Homo sapiens: one gene and its partners. The protein of the gene in region 4 interacts with the protein of the main gene of each other region in a biochemical or structural test. Each region holds a gene or a part of one and is shown on either strand. Other genes may lie near its edges. The genes, in order: TOR1AIP1, RNF123, ZNF239, LMNA, NARF, SMURF2 and FBXO7.

Region 1 (3,500 bases), about 24 Mb from region 4:
TTGCAGTGAGCCGAGATCACGCCACTGCACTCCAGCCTGGGTGACAGAGAGAGATTCCATCTCAAAAAAAAAAAAAAAAAAAAAGAAAAGGATGCAATATAAATGAACATCTTCTACGTGTTATAATAGCTAGCTGTCCCTTTAGATTAATTTCACTGATGCCTTTTGTGGTATGCAAGTTAACACTGGTAAAATTTAGTTTGTGACTCATCCCTAGTTACTATTGGCAATAATAATAGGATTAATTTATATTTATCTAGTGCTTTTCGGTTTATAAAGTACTTTCTCATATTCTACTTCATTTATTCAGTTGATAGTAACAATAATACTTTTACATCTTTTACTTATTGACTGTTTCAGGCTATTAATTTTAGTAGGGACCTTTTAGAGCAGCAATTCTCAAGGCGTGGTCTGTGGGGTACCTCAAGACCCTATTTTGTGGGGAGGGGGGTCCATGAAGTTAAAGCTATTCTTCTAACACTAAGATGTTATTTGACTTTCACCTTGTGTTGACATTTGCACTGATGACGCAAAAGCTATGGTGAGAAAAACTTCTGATGCCTTAGCATGAGTTACAGGGCAGTGGCACCAAACTGTACGAGTGTAGTCATTGTTATTTTTCACTGCCATGCATTCAAGATTTAACAAAGGGACATTCTTTTACTTAAGAATGTCCTTTATGAAGCAGTTAATTATTTATCTTATTAAATCTGAATCCTTGAGTACATATGTCAATATTCTTTCTGAACAAATGGAAGGTATGCACAAAGCACTTCTGCTGCATCATACAGTACCATGGTTGTCTCAAGGAAAAGAATTTTGTGCAAATGAATTACAAGGCGAATTAGCACATTTTTCATGGAATACTATTTTTTACTTGAAAGAACAAGTAACAAACTACAGTCAGACTTGTGTATTTGGCAGATATTTGCTTTCAAGTGAAAATTAGGATTTTAGAATCCTAAATCTGCCACCATGAGCTTGACAACTCCCAATATTGTACTTTAACACTTTCTTTTTTTTTTCTGAGATGGAGTCTCGCTCTGTGGCCCAGGATGACATGAAGTGGTGCGATCTTGGCTCACTGCAACCTCTGCCTCCCAGGTTCAAGTGATTCTCCTGCCTCAGCCTCCTAAGTAGCTGGGATTACAGGTGCGTGCCACCATTCCCAGCTAATGTTTTTGTATTTCTAGTAGAGACAGGGTTTTGCCATGTTGGCCAGGCTGGTCTTGAACTCCTGACCTCAGGTGATCCATCCGCCTGGGCCTCCCAAAATGTTGGGATTACAGGCATGGGCCACGAACCCCACCCTTTAACACTTTTTTAAAGTCTTGAGATTGGCAGTGATGTTAACAAATGTGATATTTTTTATTACATTCCTAATGTGTCAATGTTTGGAAAATCTGCATTCCTCAGTGAACCAATGTTTTCCAAATGACCAGTGCATGATACTCCATTCAAAGTATAAGAAAGACCAATGACTTTTAATGTAATAGAGTACTAAAAGCTCAGTAAGATGGTTTTAGATATCCTATTTCAAGTAACATTTAAGAAACTACCACTTGTTGAGTTTTGGAGAGTTCAAAAAAGAATAGCCACAATTATCTGAAGAGGCTATTAAAATTTTTCATATCTGTATAAAAGCTGGATTTTTTGTAGATACTTCAACAAAAATAATATATTGTAACAGACTGCATACAGAAGCATATATGATAATCCAAATCCATTTTTTAAAGCTAGGCATTAAAGAGATTAGAAAAAATGCAAAGCAATCTGATCTGTTACTCTTCTTGCTAAATTATTTTAAAATAAATTAATACATATTTTAAAAAATGTTTCAACTTTAATTTCCTGGTACATATGGATAGACATAACCCATATTTTCAACAAAAAGCTCTTTGAGGTTCTTAATAACTTTACTAGTGTAAAGCGGTACCAAGAACAAAAAATTTCAGAATCATCATTAATCTATTTTCTTTTTTTTTTTTTTTTGAGACAGAGTCTCGCTCTGTTGCCAGGCTGGAGTGCAGTGGCACAATCTCGGCTCACTGCAACCTCCGCTTCCTGGGTTCAAGTGATTCTCCTGCCTCAGCCTCCTGAGTAGGTGGGACAACAGGCGTGTGCCACCACGCCCAGCTAATTTTTGTATTTTTAGTAGAGATGGGGTTTCACCATGTTGGCCAGGATGGTTTCGATCTCTTGATCTCATGATCCGCCTGCCTTGGCCTCCCAAAGTGCTGAGATTACAGGCATGAGCCACCACGCTCAGCCCATTAAGTTATTTTCTTAGTACTCTTTCAGGACAATAAGACTTGGAGAACTAAAGAAACTTGCCACAAGGCTGTAAAGGAGGTAAGTGGTCCAATCTAGTTCAAATACAGGTTTGCAGACTCCGAAAGCCATTGTAATCCCATAAAGTCATGCTCTGGCTAACTTTCTTTCAATTCAGCATGGTTTTCTCAGTTAACAGTATTAGTAGCTTTACTTATTTTAGCTATTATTTTTGGTCTTATAGACAGTTAAGTGAAGAGCAATACCAGATGTTGTCTCATAAAGTTTGTCTATAAAGAATTTCACTGCTAGTAGAATATATACTTTTTCCTCTCAAGTGCTTAAAATGTGATTCTTCAAATAGCATCGAGTCATACTGCTGTCAAAAAACATTTTTAAACAATTATGGAATACCAATTTTACAGAAATATTTAATAAAAACTGAATACATAAACTTACGTCGGCTGGAGGTTGATGGTGACTGGTTTCCAAGCTCTGATTTCAGAATGCTGTCATCTAATGGTGAGAGTAATAAAATAAGACTATCAACTTATGCTTCATAATTTGAGTATTTATTTCTAGTAGACAAAGAAGATACAAATTCCACCAGGAAAAAAAGAAGACAGAGATCAGCCAGAAGCAGAAGAAAAAGTAGAATATCTGAGTGCCGATTAGACTGAGAGCTCCTTGAAACACATGACCTATTTCTTTCATAGCTTTTCACAGCATATGGTGGGGTCTAGTACAAAGCACACAATAATTAGTTTTGAGAGAAAGTTTGGAAGTATTTGACCCATTAAGTATCTAATGGGATTGGTGAAACTTCCGGGATAAAAAGGACAAAGAAACTAAGCACACCATAATAAAATGAAACATATTATACCATCTGAAAAACTGCCATATATTGAACTCTTGCCTGGTGAAGATGCTGTAAAGAGGGGGAAAATAAGGACAAAATGTGGATTACAGACTACTGAGCTGTCTGGATAAGGTGTTTTAATATAAAAATCTTAATCCTCACTATTTTCTACCTCAAACTGATTCAGTATTTCCTCTGGGGATTCTGACCATTTCAAATACTAGTAGTATTTTAAAATCACATTTAAAAACTTCTCATCATTTCTGTTAATAGACAAGTAATAAAGTAATTCTGTTTTAGGCTTGTGGTTAAACAATAGAGCTCAAAAATAATTTTCTCTCAACTCTGTCAAATTTCTACTTTCATCTAA
Region 2 (3,500 bases), on a different chromosome or scaffold from region 4:
GGTGGGTGCTGGGGGGCCCTGTGTTTGAGTCCCCAAGGGTCAGTGGGAGCCTTACCTGCCCTGGATTGGGGGATATCCCACAGGACTGGGGCTGGGCCTCTCTGCTTCTCCTGAGTGAACGGCTGCCATGAGTACCCCCATCACCCCAAGTTATGCAGCTGCTGGCTCTGACCTGAAATGGCAGGGGTGGAGAAGAGGTAGGGGAGGTCTGTTTCTTGGTCCAGGAGACAGTTTCTCTGTCTGCCTGGATGGGTGAGTGGCCAAAGCCAGAATTCCCAGGCTGTGCTAGGCCAGATTGGAGGGGAGGGCTGTGGGGAGGGTCTTCCTACTGGGCCGTGACCACTGGCCTAGCCTCCTCAATTCCTCGCAGAGGCCTACATCCCGCCCCAGGTCTTCTATAATGGCAAGGTGGACTACTTTGACCTGCAGCGCCTGGGGGGCCTCCTCTCGCACCTGCGGAAGACCCTCAAAGGTGTGTACAGGCCTGTGGGCCGGGAGCAGTTCTGGGGCCAGGTGGGGGACTGTCCCTGAGCCTGCTCTGCTGTGGATGCTGAGCCATCCTATGGCCACCAGAGGGTGCCCAAGTCTTTCCACCCACTCAGGCAGGGAGACACTGATCTGCCTGCCCTACATCTGGGCAGCTTCTCTTTCCCGCCAGCACCCACGCCATAGGGGTCGGGCGTGCCTGGCAGGGGACCAGGGATCTTGGTGAGGTGTGGATGGGGCGTGCAGGTGCTGCCGGAGCTGCCTTCAGGGATGAGCACAAGCTGCCCCGGTGCAGGGCTGAGGGCACAGCGAGAGCAAGGCCCTGAGCCGGGCACAAGGGTGGGTCTGTGCTGTCAGAACCTCTCTCTGGCTGCCGCAGTGTATACGCCGGAGTGCAGGGGCTGAGAGACAGGGAGCCCAGGTGTCCCCACACAGGAGATAAGGGCCTGCCCAGGTAGGTAGGGGAGGGCACAGGTGGAGGAGAGGAGTCAGGATGACCCCAGGCTTCCTGCCAGAGGTTGTGTGGATGGGGTGCCATCAGGGAGAGGGGCTGCAGGAGGTGGTGGAGATGAGAAATTCTGTTTGGACACAGCGCGTTTAGCGGGGAGCAAGGCCTGGGCGGGGGGCAGCGAAGGCGGGGTCAGTTGTCAGCACGGTGGTGGGGATGAGCCTGGGATGAGGCTTGGCTCCCACTGGGAGTGCCCAGAATGAAGCAGCCCTGGCATCTCCTTTTGTTTATGGAGTAGTCAGAGAGTGGGGGAGGCCCTGGAGAGCAGGAAGTCCTGGGAAACAAAGCCAGGGACCAGCAGGAAGGGCATGATGGGCTTACATCTATGTAGAATAAAGAAAGTCAATTTGAAAATAAATGAAAAAGAAGGGTGTGATGGGGAAGGCCTCCTGTTACTGAGTGGCAGCTAGACGGGGCCCTTGAGATGCAGAGTGAAGGCTGGGTGGAGGAGGCGGAGGGGCGAGGGGCAGATACGGTGCTAAACCGGGCTCTGCAAGGCCTCCTGCCCAGTGTGCTGGGCTCTCTCACCGTCCTGGGCACTTCCACTGTGGCCCCTTGCGCCACCACTGGCCTGAGAACCCTCCTGCTCTTCCTCCCAGATGACCTTGCTTCCAAAGCCAACATTGTGATCGACCCACTGGAGCTCCAGTCAACCGCCATGGATGACCTAGATGAGGATGAGGAGCCAGCCCCAGCTATGGCCCAGGTGCCGCAGTGGGGGCAGGCGGTGGGATTTGTGTTGGGCTTATCCTGTATCTTATGGGCAGGGGTCTCATCCAGGGCCACTTCCCGCTCCATGCAGGCAAAGGGTTTCTCACTGGGCTGGTGCCTTGCTGTGGGTGGAGGCATGGACCCTCCCTCACAATTCTGCAGCCCCGTGGGCCAAGGGAACCCTGAGCCAGCCCTGGTCCTGGCCGCCTTTCTTCACTGCAGCGCCCCATGCAGGCCCTGGCTGTTGGGGGGCCACTGCCCCTGCCCCGGCCCGGCTGGCTCAGTTCTCCAACTTTGGGCCGAGCCAACCGCTTCCTCAGCACAGCGGCTGTGAGCCTCATGACCCCACGGCGGCCTCTGAGCACCTCGGAGAAAGTGAAGGTCCGCACGCTGAGCGTGGAGCAGAGGACCCGTGAGGACAGTAGGTGCTTGGTGGGGTCAGGCAGGTCCCCGAAGGACCCTTCCACAGTGTACAGTCCCCGATCCGGGCAAAGCCAAAATACACCCCATGCCCTCCCAGCCCTGTGGCCTGGCAGCATCCCAGGAGTGCAGGAAGCACACTCCGAGGGCAGGAGATCAATGCCGCAGAAATAGGTCCTGGCACCGCAGGCCTTGCCCTGCACTCCACCCCTACCCCCATGCCCCCATGGGCTCCCCGCGGGTCCCTCCTTGGGCACAGGAATGGGAGAGATGATTTCCTCTCCTGCTGTGAGGCAGGCTCAGGAGAGCCGGGATGGCCCTACCCTTGACCCTTCCCTCCCCAACTCCCCAGTTGAAGGCAGCCACTGGAATGAGGGCTTGCTGCTGGGGCGGCCCCCCGAGGAGCCTGAGCAGCCCCTCACCGAGAACTCGCTGCTGGAAGTCCTGGATGGGGCGGTCATGATGTACAACCTCAGCGTACACCAGCAGCTGGGCAAGGTCGTGCACTCTTGGACCCCGCATTGGGTGGCGGGTGTTGTGCGTGTTTGGTTGTGTGTGTATTCCTGTGTGCACATGGGCCCGCAGGGCTGCCTGTTCAAGACCGTGCATGGGAGCACATGCCTCAGCGAGGCTGGTTTCTGCTCCTGCTGCCTCAGTCTGACCTGCTGACTGTTGTGGGAATGGGACCGCCCTGGGCCTAAGGTTGGGACCTTGGCAGGGCTGGGGTCCAGACTGGGTCTGAAGAAGCCTGGATGAAGTGCCCAAGGGGCACTCTGGACATGTGGTCCCATGCTGTGTAGATGGTGGGTGTCTCCGATGATGTCAATGAATACGCTATGGCTCTGAGGGACACAGAGGACAAGCTCCGCCGGTGCCCCAAGAGGGTAAGGCCCACATAGTCTTGGTGAGGGGCAGCTTGCTTACTCGTACAGGTAACCACAGATGAAGTCTGGTTCTGGGGGCTGCCCTGGCAGTTCTCATCCCCACTCTAGCCCTGGCCATAGCACGCCAGTGAGAGTGGGGCTGGCAGCAAGGCCTGGCACCCATCACCAGTGTGGCCTGTGCCTAGGTGCCCCCCACCCCCTGGGCCCAATAAGTGCTGAAGCACACCCACTCTCCTCATCAATTATTCATTGACCCTGAGTGCTTCCTCGGCCACTTGCAGAGTCAGCAGGAAGCAGGGCCTGGCTCCACTGCACCCTCCGGAGCCCTCTGCTGTAGCTGCCCTAGCCCAGGAAGGTGGGGCCCAGTGTGTCCAGGCTGAGCTTCCCTGACAGCCCCCACCCACCCCGACCTGTCAGCAGATCCCTGGGTCTGGCAGCTGGGGGAGCAGCGGTTCTGGCATCAGGTCCCTGGGTGCTCTGGCCAGCGGCTC
Region 3 (4,200 bases), on a different chromosome or scaffold from region 4:
AAAGTACTGGGATTACAGGTGTGAGCCACCATGTCTGGCCTCAACTCATCTTTAAATCCCCAGCAACTACCACAATTGACTTGGAATCTGAAAGATAAATATAAATTCACATTCAATTTAAATGAATAATAATACAACTAAAAGAAAACATAAAGATGGTCAAGCCCAAGACCCTCAGTTTACAGAGAAAAAAACCACAGTTCATAAGGGCGAAGTGACTTACCCAATGTCACAGAGGAAAAGCAGGGTTAACTAAGACTCCCGCCTTTCAGCAGACCTAAGGACAATGTGTGGTACATAGAAAACACACAATGCTTGGAATGAAGTCCTTCCTTTAAATTAAAAAAGTTGTTGTGTAACACACACCAGAATCTCAAAATTTACTAAACTGGCAATCCCCAGTTGCAGCGGCAGTGAATACTTAATCATTAGGGAGCAGGCAGAAGCGAAGGAAGGAAAATGTATTGATTCTACTAAGGTTAATCTCCCTTGAAGTCCTCAATTACTTTTCAGGGCACAGAGAAGCCATGCTCTCAGTACCTCAAGTCAGCTTACTGTCCTCTAAACAGATTTTTTCTAAGAGCTCATGTGTGTGAGGGCTGTATTTGCCAAGCAAAAAGATGGCCTTTGCTGGTAGTGTTAAAAAACATTTTTTTTCCCTTAAAACGCAGTCTGATATTTTATTCAAACAACTTCTGATGTGATGACCTGTTTAGTTAATGGAGAAAGAACAGCCTGAAGGAAGAAAACACGGGGTTTATTTCTGGCCTTCTGCTCTCTGAAACAAAGGACAAGGCACTTTCCTTCGGCTCTCTCAGAGTTAGCCGAGTTAGAGCTCTCCACCATAAAACGCCAGGACAGGGCAAAGAGGGGGCCGACCATCTCAAACACCATGGGATTCTAAGTGGGGGCTGACCATCTCAAATACCCTGGGAGTCTAAGGGTTAATTTTGAGGTAACCTCCTACAGATGGTTTTATGGGGACAACTGAAAACTCTCTTTAAAAAAGTACGACTTGGTAATTTAAAATTTACTGGAACAGTTAAATATGTAGACATGCTAGTGAAAGAGAACAAATCAACCTGAGTATAAAGGATGAATAACTCATTTTACCTACCCTAGAGACACTTATAGTGTATAGAGAGATATTTCACAATAAACCTTTGGATGTACAAAGATCAACAGAATAAAAAAGGAGTGAAACTCTCCTTTCACTAGGTCTGGAAGAGAGAAGGAAGCTTAGTTCTTAAAAAACACCACAGAGAGTTCTGATGCATAGCCTAGTTGAAAAGCATTTCTAGAGTGATTTTGTAACCACTGTGCTGCCATTTAACGAATTTCCTCGTTTTTGACTCATAGTTAATAAATTATCACTATTAATATGCATTTTTTTGTGTACAGGTAATATAATATGTTCATCAAGATGGTAAGCTCCTTGAAGAAAAGCACCGTGGTTTATCATTCTATCTGTTTTGCTGAGACCACTTAGCACTGGGATGAGTATGGAATAGCTTGGAATGACTTTCAATGTGAGTGAAATGTCTGGCAGGAAAAGGCAGGCTTTGAGAGGCTCCCCAGGAGGGCACAGCCCACTGCTCTGAGGAGTGGAATAAATTCTTGGAGGCAGGATGGGCCAGTGAAAACTCTCTGTGCAGACCCTGGTGACATCATCTGCTAGCTACATGTCCTTAGTATCTTAATGTCCCTACATCCATAGCTATAAAATACCGTACTGGGGGCCTGACAATAAAGAAAACAACACATGGCACAGGGACATTTCAGGGAGATGGCATTTTAGGAGAAATGGAACGCCAACTCACCCGGACCCTGGTCATTTCTTACTCCCAGAGGGGATGGATTCCTGGAAAGGCAGAGTTAGGGAAAGAGAAAAAGCCATGAAAATCAAGTCCAGCAAGACTGCGGGGAAAAAGTTACTCCGCTCCTGCCTCTGACGCTTCTTCAGTCACTTCCACCCACACTCCCTCCATCAGGTGAGAGGTGAAGCATTTTCTGTCACCACCTTCATCTCTCTCCACAGGGCTTTCGATTAAACAAGCCAAGTTTTCCCCCCAAAACCAAGAGGCTAGGTAAATTCCGCAGCCGCCGGCAGCTCGAAGCCGTGCCCATTTCCTCTGACTTTCCCGATCTCTGTCCTAAAGTTCTAGTTAAGAGGAGAAGCTTCTCGGGATGGATTTCGGTTGCCCAAGACGCCTTCCCCGACCTCATTCTCAGGAGCCTGGCTCGTTCCTGCGGTGCGGGGGCTCAGATGCAAGCTCTTTTCAGCGAAGGCAGTGCTGCGGACAGAAACCTCAGTCTCTTACAGGAGCCCCCGTCCGTCGCCTAACGTCCACCGAAAACCCCCCTGCAATAACGCCCGTCACAGGCGAGGAAAAGGCCGGCGTGGCCAACCACGAAGCCCCCAGCCGGCCCAGGCCAGAGCTCGGCCAGGAGGGAGGAGGGGCCATCGGAGGCGCGGCCGCTCAGCTGCAGGGCCCCACAGGCTTCGGTGTGGCCGCAGCCCGGCCCCGGGGGCGCAGCAGCTCGGAAATGCGGCGCCGGGACACACGTGCCGCCGCGGGCCGCGCCTCCGCTGGTCGCGTGCCCTACCATCGCCGCCCTCCCGGCTTCCGCAGCTCGGCGGCCCAGCGCCTTACCCGCGGCACACCCATTTCCTGACCCCTGAACGCCTCTGCCAGCGGCTGGGGAAGCCCGGCCAGTCTCACCTCCCACGTGGAACCCCACGCCTGCAGGGGCCAGATTCCGGATGCTGACCGCTCGCGCGCCTAGGGCCCCGAAATACAAGTCCCAGCAAGCCGCGGGCGAACCACGCCCACTTCCGGCGCGGGCCCCTGAACTCTGCGCTGTGCGGAGCGGGATTCTTGGGCGGAGGGGACCATCTTTGAGTCAGCGACGCGTGTATTCAAGTCCTCCTCCTCGTTTTTTATTACAAACAAATAAGAATTATTTTAGGAATACCTGTTAAGGTGATTTTCATTTGTTAAAATACTATTGGGGGAAAAGGATGTAAATACCCATAATTTCATCTTTACCTTTCAAAACATTCTGAAGTGAATATTTGCCATTCGGCATCTTCCATCTCACCTCTGAAGTTCATCCATTTAACAGATATTAATTGAGAGCCAACTGTGTACCAGGAGCTGTTCAAGATGCTTGCACAAAAGTCACTGCCCTATTCTAGTTGGGGAAACAAGCAATCCATAAATATAGTAAATATATGGCGTCGTGTGTGTCATGAGGTGGTACTGAAAGCATAGAGCTGGGCGGGGTGTGGCGAGGTGCGTTTGTGGGTGTGTAGGACTGGAGGTGTACTTTGCAATTTTAAATAGGGGATCTTGGAACAAACACAGGAGGTGAGGGAATTAGACAAGTGGCTCCCAGCAGTCAGAACTCTCCTAAACGCACACAAGGGTTGTTGATACCAGGATTTTACGTTTATTTCACTTCTCACCGAGTGACACAGAGCTACCCATTTGGTCTTTTCCCAATTCCTTTCTTTCAGATTTATTTTGGAGAGGAAAGAGATGTTGCCTGGACCTCTCTTCTACATCCTCCCCCTTCCTTGGTGTATTAGTTTCCAATTGCTGTCACAACAAATTAACACAAACTTAGTAGTATAACAAACATGTATTCTCTTAAACTTCTGGAGGTGCCAAGTCTGAAATCAAGTTTTACTGGGCTTTATAAAGTCAGTGTTGGTGGGGCTAGTTCCTCCTGGAGGTTCTAGATGAGAATATTTCTTTGCCTTTTCCAGTTCCCAGTGACTATTTGCATTCCTTGGCTTATGGCTCGCTCCTTTATCTTCAAAGTGCATGACTGCAACCTCTGCCTTCATCATCACATCACATGCTCAGGCACTGGCTCCTCGTGGGTCCTTCTAATAACGACTGTTGTGATTACATCAGGCCCAGCTGGCTAATCTGGGATAATCTCTTGACGTCAAGATCCTTAATTTAATCACATTTCAAAAAAAATCCCTCTTGCCATAGAAATTAACATCCACAGCTTCTGGGGGTTAGGACATGGACATATTTGGGGGACTATTATTTTCAGCCTGCGATGCTTGGAGAGGCCCACGTCCCCTTCGGTCTCCTCCTCAGAGATGCTGTCTTACCTTTTGCCTGGGGAACACAAAATGTCTCCCTTGGACCTTACTCCTCTCCTCATTCTTCATTGGAAAAC
Region 4 (3,500 bases):
GATTGTCCCCGAAGCTGCCACCCCCACTGCCCCCCACACTGCGGTAGCTGCGAGTGACCGTGACACTGGAGGCAGAAGAGCCAGAGGAGATGGGTCCGCCCACCTGGGCTCCTGAGCCGCTGGCAGATGCCTTGTCGGCAGGCTGCCCGCAGGTCCCGCACAGCACGGTGCGCGAGCGCAGGTTGTACTCAGCGGGGTCCCCCGAGCTGCTGCAGTGGGAGCCCTGGGAAGGGAGACAAGGCTCAGGCGGGACGGCGAGTCTGGGACTGACCACTCAGGCCCAACCAGGCTCCAGGCTCCTGCAGGCTCCCAGCCGCCAGGCAGGAAGGTGTGGTTCTGTGCCCAAGGAGCCAGCGGGCAATGGGGGTTTGGGAGGCTAGGGGCCCGGAGGAGGAGAGGGAAGACATAAAAGGGGAGAAGGCTCAGGAAGACTTGGGGACAGAGAACCAGAGCAGTGACTCTGACTCTGTTCTAGCTACTCTGAGCTTAAGAGGAAAAGAAGAGAGAACGGGAGCAAGCTTGTAGGGCAGCAGGCATGCACTATTAATTGGAGTGGAGGGGCGGTCAGGAATGAGAGAGAACATTCTTGCAGGAAAAATGAGGGAAATGAGAGGATATGCATGCAACAAGAATGGGGGAGAGAGGCAGGGCGGGCATGCCCCACGTCTGTCCTCCCCTCCCTTTCCCAGAAGACAAATCCAGACCCTTGTCCACTGCTCCCACAGGAATATTCCATGGCATCAGAAAGTTCCCACTCCCTTCCTTACCAGAGTAGGGCACCCAGACACCTGGGTTCCCTGTTCAAGGTATAGGGAGGAGAGAGAAGAAAGGCCAGGCCAGCGAGTAAAGTTCCAAAACATTCTTTAATGAAAAGATTTTTGGCACGGGGAGGCTGGGGAGAGGCTGCCCCCAGGCCTGGCTGGGTGGCCCCAGTGCAGGCTCGGCCTCAGCGGCGGCTACCACTCACGTGGTGGTGATGGAGCAGGTCATCTCCATCCTCATCCTCGTCGTCCTCAACCACAGTCACTGAGCGCACCAGCTTGCGCATGGCCACTTCCTGGTGGGGACATGGAACCAGGTCCAAGGGTCAGGGCCAGGGAAGGGTTGTACAGCATGTCTACCCCAGTGACCACCTGCAACTTTTCTTGTGGCCTGCCCTTTGTCCGGCCTGCTGCTTACTCTGTCCTCTGTGGTGATGGAGCTAAGGAACTCATTTCCACCCCAGAGGGACACTGTCAAGCTCTCCGGGTAGGAGTATGGCTCTGCCTTTAACAATCCTCACTGTCTAACTTCCACCCCTTGTGCTGTTGAGGAAGCATCTTTTGGTTTGCCTACTGGGTGGAGAAGTCTGGAGCCTGCAACAGAGAGCTCTAGAAAGGGGCCCTGAATTGGCAAACTTGGGTTGGGGGCAGCTGGCTCCGATGTTGGCCATCAGGGGGAGCCTCGTCCAGCAAGCAGCCAGGCCCAGGCCTACTTACTTCCCCAGTGGAGTTGATGAGAGCCGTACGCAGGCTGTTCCCGCAGCCCCAGGTGTTCTGTGCCTTCCACACCAGGTCGGTAGGGGGGCTGTGGGTGGCCCCAGCTCCTGCAGCCCAGATCTGGAGAGGAGAAAAGGACACTTACCCCAGCGCTCCCATCGCCACCCAAGGCCTCCCCAGAGTCCCAAGCGCCCTGCCACTCACCGTCACCACCTGCCCAGCCTTCAGGGTGAACTTTGGTGGGAACCGGTAAGTCAGCAAGGGATCATCTCCATTCTGGCGCTTGATCTGCCAATTGCCCATGGACTGGTCCTGCCGGGAAGATAGGGAAGAGGAAGGTCGGGGAGGCTCACCCAGGCTCTTGGGTGTATCTTGCTCAAAGGCCCAGCCCTCTGCCTGCCTGCAATTGAGGCCTCTCCTTCCATCTACACACACCCCTGTCACTGCCCTTCCCCCGGGGATAATAGCCATGATCTGTGGACACATACGCAGCACCAGGCACACGGATACCTTATCTTTCATCTTCCTGACAACTCAAAGACTTAGGGATCAGTATTCATCCCCATTTTACAGATGAGGAAACTGATGCTCTGAGAGGTTAAATAACCTGCTCAAGGTCTCACAGCCAAAGAGTCCAGGAGCCAGGCCTGGAACCAGAGTGTGGAGGAGATATACAGGCTCACCCTGGTCCACCCTCTGAGGGCAAGGATGTTCCTCTCTCCACATGCCATCCTTCTGTCTTGCCACTCTCTCCCTGATGCAGCTGTATCCCCTTAGACCCTGAGCAGGAGCCTACCTCATTGGACTTGTTGCGCAGCCGGACAAACTTGCCCTCCTCATCCACCTCCTCCACGGCCACGCGCCCGCTAGTGCGTGCGTGCTGTGAGAAGCTGCTGCGGCTCTCAGTGGACTCCAGTTTGCGCTTTTTGGTGACGCTGCCCCCACCCTGTGTCTGGGATGAGTGAGAGGAAGCACGGCCACGGCTGCGCTGCGAGGTAGGGCTGGGGGACAGGCGTAGCCTGGGGAGAGGGAGACCAAGTGGGGGTCTAGTCAAGGCCAGTTGCCGGCCAGAGGACACTGCCAGCACCTCCCCGACGTCTCCCCAGCCCACCTCTCCTCCTCGCCCTCCAAGAGCTTGCGGTAGGCGTGGATCTCCATGTCCAGGGCCAGCTTGATGTCCAGAAGCTCCTGGTACTCGTCCAGCTGCTGCTGCATCCTTGCCCGCATCTCGGCCATCTCCCGCTCCTTTTCCGCCAGCAGCCGCCGGCTGGTGTCCCGCTCACGGGCCAGTGAGTCCTCCAGGTCTCGAAGCTTCGCCTCCTTGGCTGCCAGCTGAAGGGGGGTGGGAGGGTTTGGTGAGCTCCCAAGGGCCCTAAGTATGGGGAAGGAGGGACGTGGGTCGGTGTAGGAGACACCTGGCTACTCTCTCCAGGATCTGCAATCAGAGCTTCCCCAGAGCCCTCATCAGAGCCAGCTCTGAACATCACAAGCTCTAAACATAGTCTTGGCTGGCAACTGGGAAGTCCTTCCCCTTGTCTAACTGAAACCTCTCGTTCTGAGGCTAGACTTTTTCTCCTGTCACAAATAGCACAGCCAACTAGAAAAATACTGATGCTTTTAACACCTCACATTGCAGAGTCCTGTGGCAACTCTGAGTTAGGGAGATTAAGAACAGCCTCCATTTTCGAATGGGAAAACCAAAGCCCTGAGAAGTGAAGGTGAGGTAAGAGTGTACAGAAACAGCACACAGGCCATCTGACTCCACATCCTGCGACCCTTCTCTGTGGTTGTGGGGACACTTTTCATCCCTCTCCTCCTCAGGAACCTCCCACCCCCACCCCCACCCCCAACCCTGGGCTTCCAGCCTGCATCCGGCCCAGACTCTAGGCCCCTGGAGAGAGGGGTGAGGTGGGGTATCACCTGCTTCTGGAGCTGGCTGAGCTGGGCAGAGAGGCTGTCGATGCGGATGCGCGACTGCTGCAGCTCCTCGTGGGCAGCCCCCACCAGGTTGCTGTTCCTCTC
Region 5 (3,500 bases), on a different chromosome or scaffold from region 4:
CAGCATCTCTGGGCAAGGTCCGGGGCCTCATTCTCAGCAGGGTGGGCAGCATTTCTACTCTACCCCGAATGGGCCCAGGAAAACCACCAGATGCCACAGAAAAGGTTAAGAAGAAAGAAAAAGGTTGTAAGAGGAAGGGAGGAATAGAGACGGGCGTTGGTGAGAAACAGCACTGCTGATGTTTCCTGAAGCCACAGCTTCCTTTTTGCTCACCTGGGGGGCCGTGACCACGCTGGACAGATGGGGAACCTCCCCTTCCTGGGCCCCTGTGCCATGGTCCTCCCTCACCTGCCCTTCCTGCCCTCCAGAGAGGTCAGCTTACCTGCTGTCTGGCGAAATAATCCTTCACCAAAGAGCCCATGACCTGCTGGGGGGACTTGGCGGTGCAGAGGTGGGCAGTGATGGGGCGACCCAGCACCCGCTCGGCGTATCGGACCCAGCCTGGGGAGAGAAGGGATCCACGGTCAGCTCCTTACTGCTTCCTCTGGTCTTCCTGTAACGCACCAGGGAATGCTGAGCTCGAGTCCCTGCCGCCCCAGGGTGAAGCCAGAACACCTTTTCCCCAGGCCTTACCAGGAGCTCGTGCTGGACCCAAAACCCGTCCTCGGTGGCCCGGCTGTGGGTCATGGGAACCTGCAGGCCTGGAGGCTACTGGGAAATGGGAGCATCCCTGCAAGGCCGACAGACAAGTAAGAGTCGGAGTAACAGGTCCCCCAAAAAGGTGAAGGGGAACAAGCACTGAAAGGCAGCAGGAGCAGCGGCCCAGGCTGCACCGTGCAAAATCGCCTGGCCAGCTACAGCGTCCTTACAGCCAGGACACGCAGCTACCGCTCAGGGGAGAGCAGCCACATGCTTGCCCAACTTCTCTCACCGGCGAGAAACTAACAGCCCAACAACTGCACGCTTTTTAAAATATAAGAAATCTATACTCCTCAAGTCGTAATAAATAGCAACATCTGTAGTGTCACTACATGCCCGCACAATCTGAGCACTTTCCTGAGGTTGAGTGCTGCTGTGGTTTCCAGGGTGAACACAAGTCACCACTGCAGCTGACCACACAACAGCAATTCCACCGCAGGAGCCCTGCCTACTCCTTTCCCGCAGGCGTACAGCCCAGTCAGAGTGCATAAGAACATCACAGAACTTGCTGACCTGGCAACTGATTTTAGGACCTGACCCCACAGACACTTGCACACCTGTGTACATGAGAGCCACGCAACCTGCCCTCAAACAGGGGCTGGGTAGATACCTTGGGAGACTCTACTCCTGGCGGGGAAGGTCGCCCAGAGGGTGAGAGGCAGCTCATGTCCCACAGTCAGACATGATAATCCCATTTAACAATCAAAGTTTCACCTATAAAGACGCCCGTGTGTGCTCAGGAAACACCCACAGAGACACAGAAGCAGCCACAGAGAGAAATGCCCCAGGGCCGGGCGCAGTAGCTCACGCCTGTAATCCCAACACTTTGGGACTGTGAGGCAGGCGGATCACTTGAGGGCAGGATTTCAAGACCAGCCTAGGCAACACGGTGAGACTCTGTCTCTAGAAAAATAAAAAAATCATCCAGGCGTGGTGGTGCACACCTGTAGTCCTAGCTACTTGGGAGACTGAGGCAGGAGGATGGCTTTGAGCCCAGGAGTTCGAGGCTGGAGTCAGCTATGATTGCATCACTGCTCTCCAAGCTTGGATGACAGAGCAAGACTCTGTGTTGTTTTTTTGGTTGTTTTTGTTTTTTTTTTGAGACAGTCTTGCTCTGTCACCCAGGCTGGAGTGCAGTCACACGATCTTGGCTCACTGTAACCTCTGGCTCCCGGGTTCAAGCGATTCTTCTGCCTCAGCCTCCCAAGCAGCTGGGACTACAAGTGTGCGCCACCGTGTGTGGCCAATTTTTGTATTTTTAGTAGAGACAGGGTTTCACCATGTTGGTCAGGCTGGTCTCGAACTCTTGACCTCAGGAGATCCTCCCGCCTCGGCCTCCCAAAATGCTGGGATTACAGGCGTGAGCCACCCTGCCTGGCCTGACTCTGTCTTAAAAAAAATAAATAAATATAAAAATTAGCTGGTGGCGCACGCCTGTGGTCCCAGCTACTTGGAAGGCTAAGATGGGAGGATCACTTGAGCCCAAGAGGTTGAAGCTCTCGTGAGCCATGATTGAGCTGCCGCACTCCAGCGTGGGCAACAAAGTAAGATCCTGCTTAAAAAACTGTTGGCTGGGTGGAGTGGCTCACACCTCTAATCCCAGCACACTTTGGGAGGCCGAGGCGGGTGGATCACCTGAGGTCGGGAGTTCTATTCCAGCCTGGCCAACATGGTGAAACCCTGTCTCTACTGAAAATATAAAAATTAGCTGGGCGTGGTGGCAGGCGCCTCTAATCCCAGCTACTTGGGAGGCTGAGGCAGGAGAATGGCTTGAACCTGGGAGGTGGGGGTTGCAGTGAGCTGAGATCTCGCTATTGCACTCTAGCCTGAGCAACAAGAGCGAAACTCCGTCTCAAAAACGCCAGGTGTGGTGGCTCATGCCTGTAATCCCAGCACTTTGGGAGTCCAAGGAAGGCAGATCATCGAGGTCAGGAGATCAAGGCCAGCCTGACCAACAAAGTGAAACCGTGTCTCTATTACAAATACAAAAATTAGCCAGGCGTGGTGGTGCATGCCTCTAATCCTAGCTACTCAGGAGGCTGAGGCAGCAGAATCGCTTGAACCCAGGAGGCAGAGGAGCCGAGATCACGCCACTGCACTCCAGCCTGGGCAACAGAGCGAGACTCCATCTCAAAACAAACAAACAAACAAAAAAGTGTTAGCTGGGCACAGTGGCTCACTGCTGTAATCCCAGCACTTTGGGAGGCCGAGGCAGGCGGATCACCTGAGGTCAGGAGTTTGAGACTGGCCTGGCCAACATGGTGCAACCCCGTCTCTACTAAAAATACAAAAATTAGCCGGGCATGGTGGCAAGTGCCTGTAATCCCAGCACTTTGGGAGACTGAGGCGGGCGATCACCTGAGGTCAGGAGTTTGAGACCAGCCTGACCAAAATGGTAAAACCCTGTCTCTACTACAGATACAAAAATTAGCTGGGCATGGTGGCATGCACCTGCAATCCCAACTTCTCAGGAGGCTGAGTTGGGAGAATCACTTGAACCTGGGGGATGGAGGTTGCAGTGGGCCAAGATCACACCAATGCACTCCAGCCTGGGTGACAGAGCGAGACTCTGTCTCAATAAATAAATAAATAAAATAAAAAATAAAAAAAAGTCTTGACCAGGATGGAGCTTATGTTGAGAAATAAAGTTTATACTTTTTATCTTTTAATTCTGTTCTTCCACAAACTTTTTGCAGTCTCCTTACATTTGTTGATTTCCTTATGAGAGGTCCTACTGGGATGGAACCTTCTCAAGTCACTGAAGGAACTAACTCTGCTGATGTGAATCCTGAGCAGATTGCTGATTTGTATAGAAACGGTGATCCCTCCGCCTGTGGCAGTGAACACAATGCTAGGTAGGG
Region 6 (3,500 bases), on a different chromosome or scaffold from region 4:
GGTGTTTTAGTTATTTTCTCGATGATCTTGTCTATCAAATGCTTTCTTGCAAGCTTAGTGTAAAACTAATTCAGAGTAGGCTCTTACCCAAATAAATTTCAAAATGGTAGATTAATGAGGTTTTACTTAACTAAATCAGTAACCACTAAGTTAGGGAATAGACATATATTGGAAGAATGTACATATAAGTCACGAAATCTGTTTAAAACAAGAAAGTACAGGATAGAAAAATAAATTAAAAATTTTCACAATATAAGAGAGACTGCTCACAGCTGGGCATGGTGGCTCAAGCCTATAATCCTAGCACTTTGGGAGGCCAAGGCAGGCGGATCACTTGAGCTCAGGAGTTTGAGACCACCCTGGGAAACATGGCAAAACCCTGTCTCTACCAAAAAAAACAAAAAAATTAGCCAGGGGTGCTGGTGCATGCTTGTAGTCTCAGCTACTTGAGGGGCTGAAGGATCATTTGAGCCCAGGAGGTCAAGGCTGCAGTGAGCCATGATTGCACCACTGCACCCCAGCCTGGGTGACAGAGTGAGACCCTGTCTCAGAAAAAAAAAAAGAGAGAGAGAGACAGATTGTTCACTCACAGAAATTCCAAAGCATGAAAGGCCTTCAAAAGCATGAAAGACTTTTCCTGTGAATAAGAATTCTCAAGCATAGAACCATGAAACTTAGAAAGCACCAGAAATATGCTTTCCTCTAAAACTAAGTAACAAAATAATTCCCAATCCTTCCTTGTTACACTAGTGATGTTATAATACTAATGCACTAACCTCTAACTCCTTCTCATCAAATGTCTTCAGCAGATGTTGTGGAATTACTTCATTAAATCCTTTCTGCAGAGCCAAGAATTGAGCCTCAATGCCTCGTAAAAATCTCCAGTTCACATAGAGCCTGTAAACATTCGGCAGGATTTCGTATAATCACATGTATTTTCAGATCTGGTAATTATTATTATAAATCTCTACTTTAGCAACACCGCATCTTACAAGCATCTAACATTAACGGTTTAGCCTCAAGTCTAACAATAAATCTCAGACTAATGGGGATAAATGAACCCTGAGGTGTGACACAGTTCAATGTTGATGAAAAGTGGTAAACTACTAACAAAAGCAGCATCAGCAGAGCAACCCTTCAAATCAGAGAAGCTCCCAGGAAACAGGACGTCTACTAGAGCTGAGTCTTGATGAAATTTCTTTCTAAACTTACAGCATACATGCCAATAACTAGAATAAAGAGCTCTTTCACTCAAAAATGACTTATTTTTCTGATTTTACTTGCAAATGTAATTTGAATGTGTTGGGTGTTTTGTTTCTATTTGAGGGAGGCCTACGGGAGAAGAGGAGGTAGAGAATCCTCATACCAAAAATGAGAAGAATAAATAGTAAAAGCCAATAGCAAGCACTTTTTGATTAAATAATCATTGTTCTCTAGAGGATATAAAAATTCTGGAAGATGTAATTTTACCAATAAAAAAATGCACTAAACTACATCTATTGTGTGAATGTACGATTTATAAGTGAATTGTTTTTATTTATCTACCCAAGAAAACTTCTCCATCTCATGCATCACAGAACTTACTCATCTGTCAAATTTGTTAACATTTCCAAATTTGGAGAAATGGTTCTCTACTTTAAGAAATAAGTTACTTAACATTATATCCTTTGGAGGACCGTATTTTTGTTTGTTGGGTTAAGGGGACAGCAAAACTGTGTAACTGTAAAAGTTTTTCTTTGAATTTTTAATCTAATAACTGTAGTTGGCAAGGGATTATTACGTGCTGTAAACACGACTGAACCCTGAAGAGTGGGATCCAGGGACTGAGTAGGACACACGAGGTCTTGAAAAGGAGACACTGCTAAGACTTAGGAAATTCTCATTTGTTCTTTTTTTATTATTTTTAATTTATATTAGGTGGAGTCTCGTTCTGTCACCCAGGCTGGAATACAGTGGTGCGATCTCAGCTCACTGCAACCTCCACCTCCCAGGTTCAAGCGGTTCTCCTGCCTCGGGCTCCAAAGTAGCTGGGATTACAGGTGCCTGCCAACACGCTTAGCTAATTTTTGTATTTTTAGTAGAGACAAGGTTTCACAATGTTGGCTAGGCTGGTCTTGAGCTCCTGACCTCAGGTGATCCACCCACCTTGGCCTCCCAAAATGCTGGGAATACAGGCATGAGCCACTGCACCCAGCCTGTTCTTTCATTTTTTTTAAGTAGAAACGTAATACATACTTTTTACGTATATAACAAAAAAATCAAACATTAACTATGGAGACAGTAAAATATGAAAGTCCATTCTTTTACCCTCTTTCTCCTTCCTATTTCCAGTCGCATCATCTCCACTCCCTCATCCTAGGCAAAAACTTTATTTGGTTGCAGCCTCCTGAACATCTTCAGTATAATCATAAAAAAACAGCCAGGCACGGTGGCTTACACCTGTAATCCCAGCACTTTGGGAGGCTGAGGCAAGCAGATCACGAGGTCAGGAGTTTGAGACCAGCCTGGCCAATATGGTGAAACCCCATCTCTGCTAATAATAAAAAAAAGTTGCCAGGTGTGGTTGTGCGTACCTGTACTCCCAGCTACTCGGGAGGCTGAGGCAGGAGAATCACTTGAACCTGGGAGGCAGAGGTGCAGTGAGCCAAGATCTTGCCACTGCACTCCAGCCTGAGCAACAGAGCGAGACTCCACCTCAAAAAAACCCAAAAAAACAAAACAAAAAACAAAAAAAAAACCATGGATTTTGTTCCTACATAATTCTTCTAAGACTTACTTTTAAAATTTGACAGCTTATGCACTTTTAAATATCCACATAATATTCTGCTGAATGTATAATATAATCATTCTTCTCTAAAACCATTTTAGTAGTGTAACTTTTTTTCACAAGTAGCATTTAATTGACCGTCTTTCCCCGTATTCGTTCAGTTACATGTGTGTTTCTGCAGAAGAGCCCTAAACACAGAGCTGCTAGTTGAAGGGCACATGCTGCTGGTATCAAACTGCTTTCCAGAAAAGCTATGCCAGTGTTCACTCCAATCAAGTGGACCTCATATTTAAACTAGGAAACATTTTAGTAAGATTTGGGAACATAATCTATACACAGAAAGTATATCATGCAAGTTTCTGTGTACATAAAGTTCAAGTTCAAACTCCCAAAACTGATTACCATAGTTCTATATTTAGAGGACTTTTTATTTCTCATAAGCCAAATTAGCCCAATACATAAAAATTCCTCAATTTTTACTTTATGAAATCTGAAAAACATTTATTTACATTTATCCCTAAACTCACAATGTGCTCATTTATAAACAGGCTAAGTGTTAGTAAGATAAAGCACAAAAGCCCTTCTGAATTGCCACCTGTGATAGCTACACCACATGTGGCCCCAGTGCCCACATCTCCTGGTATTCACACATTTGTACAGCTCCTCCTCCATGATGAAACTGGGCTGGCTGTCTCAGTTTAACCAGAAGTAGACAGCAGAAGTCATGTTGGCC
Region 7 (3,500 bases), on a different chromosome or scaffold from region 4:
ACTCGAGATCCTTATATTAGCTTCTCATTTTTTTGCAGTTAAAAAAATTAAAATCTCAGTGTCTTACAGTGAAATTTACTTCTCACTCGTGTACATGTTGTGTGTGGGTTTGCTTTGGCTGAAGGAGTTGTCTTTATCCAGGACATGCTCCTCTTGTAGTAGAAGGAAAGGAGTGCCAGTGGCCCAATTATGTGTTGGTTCAACGCTTTTGCCCAGAAATTATATATGTCACTTCCACTCACGTTTTGTCAGAAAAAATAAGACAAAAATGGCCAAGCCTGATGGTGGTGGGATGGGGAAGTATAATTATGCGTAGGAAGTGATTGAGAACCATAATACAATCTACCACAATTCTCCAACTAGTAGGTAGTTTGACTTATATGAATAGATAGTGGCTTTTATTTGCTCTCTATATGTAGAGAAATAAGTAAAACGTTTTTGGTGTCAAGTTGAATGGTGGCATGTCTATTATTACAGTAGTCTTCTCTGTAGTTGGTGATAAGGGAAAGGGAGTAATGCCAATTGAAAAACATGTAGATATGTCTGTTGGATTTTGATTATTTTTGCTAGTGGAGAATAGTATCACAAATATTTTGAAGGTGCTAATAACCAAAACATAATTTTCATTGAACTTGGGACATATTATTTTTCCTTTCCTTTCTTGGCTTTGTTTCTGAATTTATCTATCTCTTTTTAGCCTGCTAGACTTCAGATAATAGTAATTTGCTAACACTTGAGTGCTTATGCTTGGTGTGCCAAACATTGTTCTAAGCACTTAATATGTGTTAATACATTTACTTCTCACAACTCATTGAAGTAGGTGGAATGTAATATTAATCCATTTTACAGATGAAATTAAGATAGCATTTAAATAACTTGTCCAAAGGCACACAGTTAATAACTGGCATGGAAACAGATATAAAAGCCAGTGAATTATTCATTTTCTGTAGTTGAATGAAGAAATTTTGTTGTATTGAATAATGTTTGAGACAGAAGAGACCATTGGCTAGTATTTAGCAATTATCATAGTTATTTGATTTATATTAAAAAGCATTTGTCTTTCCACTAAAACATAAAGGGAATAAGGGCCTAGAGTTATATGAGTTAATAGTAATTATAGTCAAGCTGGGGTTAAAAATTTGTTGTAGATGATGCATACTTGGGGATAATTAAGAGTACCATCTAATTTTCTGTCACTTTAGAAAGGAACAAGTGGCAACTTTGTTGACTATGTGGAGAAAGCCAGATGTTCTTTACTCAGTAATACCTGTTACTTCTCTTTTTTTCCTTTTAGCACTGAACCTACCAGATGTATTTGGGTTGGTCGTCCTCCCATTGGAACTGAAACTACGGATCTTCCGACTTCTGGATGTTCGTTCCGTCTTGTCTTTGTCTGCGGTTTGTCGTGACCTCTTTACTGCTTCAAATGACCCACTCCTGTGGAGGTTTTTATATCTGCGTGATTTTCGAGGTGATTTCCGTAATGACATATTCACAAGAAAGGGCTCTTATTGTCTTGATTACTCAGCTCACCAAAAGTTTTTAGTTGTAGGATTTTTCTGTTGCAAATGATTACAATAAATAGCCTTAAAGAGACTGACTCTAAGCTTCATATACCTGTGCCTGTGTCCCTAAAACTCTCTCATTTTTGTGTTTTGCACAACACAAATCACTCATTAGACTAAGAAGATTATTTCAGGATAGAGAAATGGAAGTAAAACAGGCTTATTTTCTCACTAGAGACCATAGTCAGTATCTGACGTAGAAACGAGCTGGCATTTCTGAACTGCTTTCATGGTTGAGACCAATGTGTAAGTTAGGAGAGTTTTGTTGACCTGTTCCAAGTTGCTAGGGTAGCTTTATTTCTGTATGGTCACATTATGGTGACCTGGTAATTATTTTGGCAGTGATGATGGTAGAACTTGTGCATCAGGATTTCCTGCTACAAGGCCAAAAGCCTGATTGTGGAACTTTTTTTTCTGCTACCACCATTTTACTACATATTAGTGTTTTCAGAATGTTTGACCCTGGGGTGGGTCATGAAATCCATTTAATGGGTCATGTTACAAAAAAACAAAACCCACAATGGAAAAATCCATATTTATTTTATAAATAGTATTCCTATTTATAAAATAGGAGTAAACTTCTATTTCAATTATGTATAGGTAGGTGTATACTGTGTTGCAATGTAAAATTTTTATGTGGTTCACATAAATGTTTGAATGATACTGCTATATGTGATGTTAACACATACCACCTTAGTAACTGTAAAAATGTGGTGGGTAGATAGCTCCCTTAAAAAAAAAAAAAAAAAAAAGAATATCATGTAGAGTCATTTGGATTGCTAAAATTTTTTTTTCTTTTAAAATTTCAAAATGTGAGAAGTGTAAATGACCTGGTTTGTTCCTTTTCTTCTTCTTTGATTCCTGAGGTCCTCTTTCTGCTTTATTTATGCCCCTGAATTTGACATTTAAAATGTTATTTTGTCACAATTGGCAGCAAGAAAGCATCATCTCAAAAAATAATTCAATTTTATTTATTTGTGTATTTTTGAGACAGGGTCTAGTTGTGTTGCCCTGGAGTGCAGTGGCGCAGTCATAGCTCACTGCCACCCCCAACTCCTGGGCTCAAGTGATCCTCCCTCCTCAGCCTCATAAGTAGCTGAGAACTGTAGGCATGCGCCCCCACACCTGGCCAATTTTTGTTTGTTTGTTTGTTTGTTTTTAGTGGAGACAAAGTCTTGCAGTGTTGCTCAGGCTGGTCTCCAACTCAAAAAAGAATTGAAAATATAGTAAAAAAAGAAAAGACAGAATGACTGATGTATATGGAAGCACCGAGAAAAAGCAGAGTATGATATAAATACTTATAAAAGCAACAAATACCCTTTCACTTGTATATTCAAGTTTAGGATTAAAGCACAATTATTCTTTAATTTTTAGATTGTGGCCCACAAGCTCATTTGTAAGCTGTTCAGATTTTTCTGTAGATAAAATGTTACGGAGCTAGAGCTTTTATAAATCTTACTTCCATGCTAATGTAGTAACTTGTAGAGAAGATATCATCTTTTATTCAAACTCTTTTGTATACTTAAAGTTGAATGGGTTTCTCTTTCCTCATTTCACATATTTCAAATAAATAAGTACATTAAAAAATACTTAGTTATGGTCATGCTTCTGATAGCCGAGTCATTCAGGACATCGTTGGGAGAAAGTAGTGTAACCAGAATATGGATGAAAGCCTAAGTCAGCTTGACCTCCAGTAATGAACGTGGGCTGTAACACAGAAGCTCAGAGGTTGTTGCCCAGTTTGGTGTAACGTGAGATGTTGGATTAGAAGCAGGTGACACACCTAAATGAGATTAGGGGGAGAAGAGGTAGTGTAGGACCAGTTAATGCAGGAAGAGAGTAGCCACATGTTCCTCCATAGTCCCTGAGGAATCACACTGCATTGAATTACCATGTAGCACAGAGCAGCAATGATCACCCTTAACCATCAATAAA

What was found.
Region 1: the proteins of LMNA (region 4) and TOR1AIP1 form a complex in vitro, tested with the Homo sapiens proteins (one study listed by BioGRID).
Region 2: of the proteins of LMNA (region 4) and RNF123, one has a biochemical effect on the other in vitro, tested with the Homo sapiens proteins (one study listed by BioGRID).
Region 3: the proteins of LMNA (region 4) and ZNF239 form a complex in vitro, tested with the Homo sapiens proteins (one study listed by BioGRID).
Region 5: the proteins of LMNA (region 4) and NARF form a complex in vitro, tested with the Homo sapiens proteins (one study listed by BioGRID).
Region 6: the proteins of LMNA (region 4) and SMURF2 form a complex in vitro, tested with the Homo sapiens proteins (one study listed by BioGRID).
Region 7: of the proteins of LMNA (region 4) and FBXO7, one has a biochemical effect on the other in vitro, tested with the Homo sapiens proteins (one large-scale study listed by BioGRID).

What each region holds. Positions count from the first base shown.
Region 1 is NC_000001.11:179,913,285-179,916,784, reverse strand, and holds part of TOR1AIP1 (torsin-1A-interacting protein 1), read right to left. Parts: intron 2,788-3,500; coding exon 2,731-2,787; intron 1-2,730. UniProt on the Homo sapiens protein: Required for nuclear membrane integrity. Induces TOR1A and TOR1B ATPase activity and is required for their location on the nuclear membrane. Binds to A- and B-type lamins. Possible role in membrane attachment and assembly of the nuclear lamina.
Region 2 is NC_000003.12:49,703,057-49,706,556, forward strand, and holds part of RNF123 (E3 ubiquitin-protein ligase RNF123), read left to right. Parts: intron 1-370; coding exon 371-472; intron 473-1,593; coding exon 1,594-1,700; intron 1,701-1,927; coding exon 1,928-2,126; exon of another isoform or gene 2,127-2,130; intron 2,131-2,477; coding exon 2,478-2,623; intron 2,624-2,925; coding exon 2,926-3,009; intron 3,010-3,500. UniProt on the Homo sapiens protein: Catalytic subunit of the KPC complex that acts as E3 ubiquitin-protein ligase. Promotes the ubiquitination and proteasome-mediated degradation of CDKN1B which is the cyclin-dependent kinase inhibitor at the G0-G1 transition of the cell cycle.
Region 3 is NC_000010.11:43,571,817-43,576,016, forward strand, and holds the start of ZNF239 (zinc finger protein 239), read right to left. Parts: upstream 2,801-4,200; 5' UTR 2,724-2,800; exon of another isoform or gene 2,227-2,723; coding exon of another isoform or gene 2,222-2,226; exon of another isoform or gene 1,862-2,221; coding exon of another isoform or gene 1,821-1,861; exon of another isoform or gene 1-1,820. UniProt on the Homo sapiens protein: May be involved in transcriptional regulation.
Region 4 is NC_000001.11:156,135,211-156,138,710, reverse strand, and holds part of LMNA (lamin), read right to left. Parts: coding exon 3,399-3,500; intron 2,851-3,398; coding exon of another isoform or gene 2,811-2,850; coding exon 2,590-2,810; intron 2,498-2,589; coding exon 2,275-2,497; intron 1,791-2,274; coding exon 1,683-1,790; intron 1,599-1,682; coding exon 1,479-1,598; intron 1,058-1,478; coding exon 968-1,057; coding exon of another isoform or gene 947-967; exon of another isoform or gene 845-946; intron 224-844; coding exon 1-223.
Region 5 is NC_000017.11:82,475,741-82,479,240, reverse strand, and holds part of NARF (nuclear prelamin A recognition factor), read right to left. Parts: intron 442-3,500; coding exon 323-441; intron 1-322.
Region 6 is NC_000017.11:64,550,808-64,554,307, forward strand, and holds part of SMURF2 (E3 ubiquitin-protein ligase SMURF2), read right to left. Parts: intron 898-3,500; coding exon 777-897; intron 1-776. UniProt on the Homo sapiens protein: E3 ubiquitin-protein ligase which accepts ubiquitin from an E2 ubiquitin-conjugating enzyme in the form of a thioester and then directly transfers the ubiquitin to targeted substrates.
Region 7 is NC_000022.11:32,491,811-32,495,310, forward strand, and holds part of FBXO7 (F-box only protein 7), read left to right. Parts: intron 1-1,294; coding exon 1,295-1,471; intron 1,472-3,500. UniProt on the Homo sapiens protein: Substrate recognition component of a SCF (SKP1-CUL1-F-box protein) E3 ubiquitin-protein ligase complex which mediates the ubiquitination and subsequent proteasomal degradation of target proteins and plays a role in several biological processes such as cell cycle, cell proliferation, or maintenance of chromosome stability.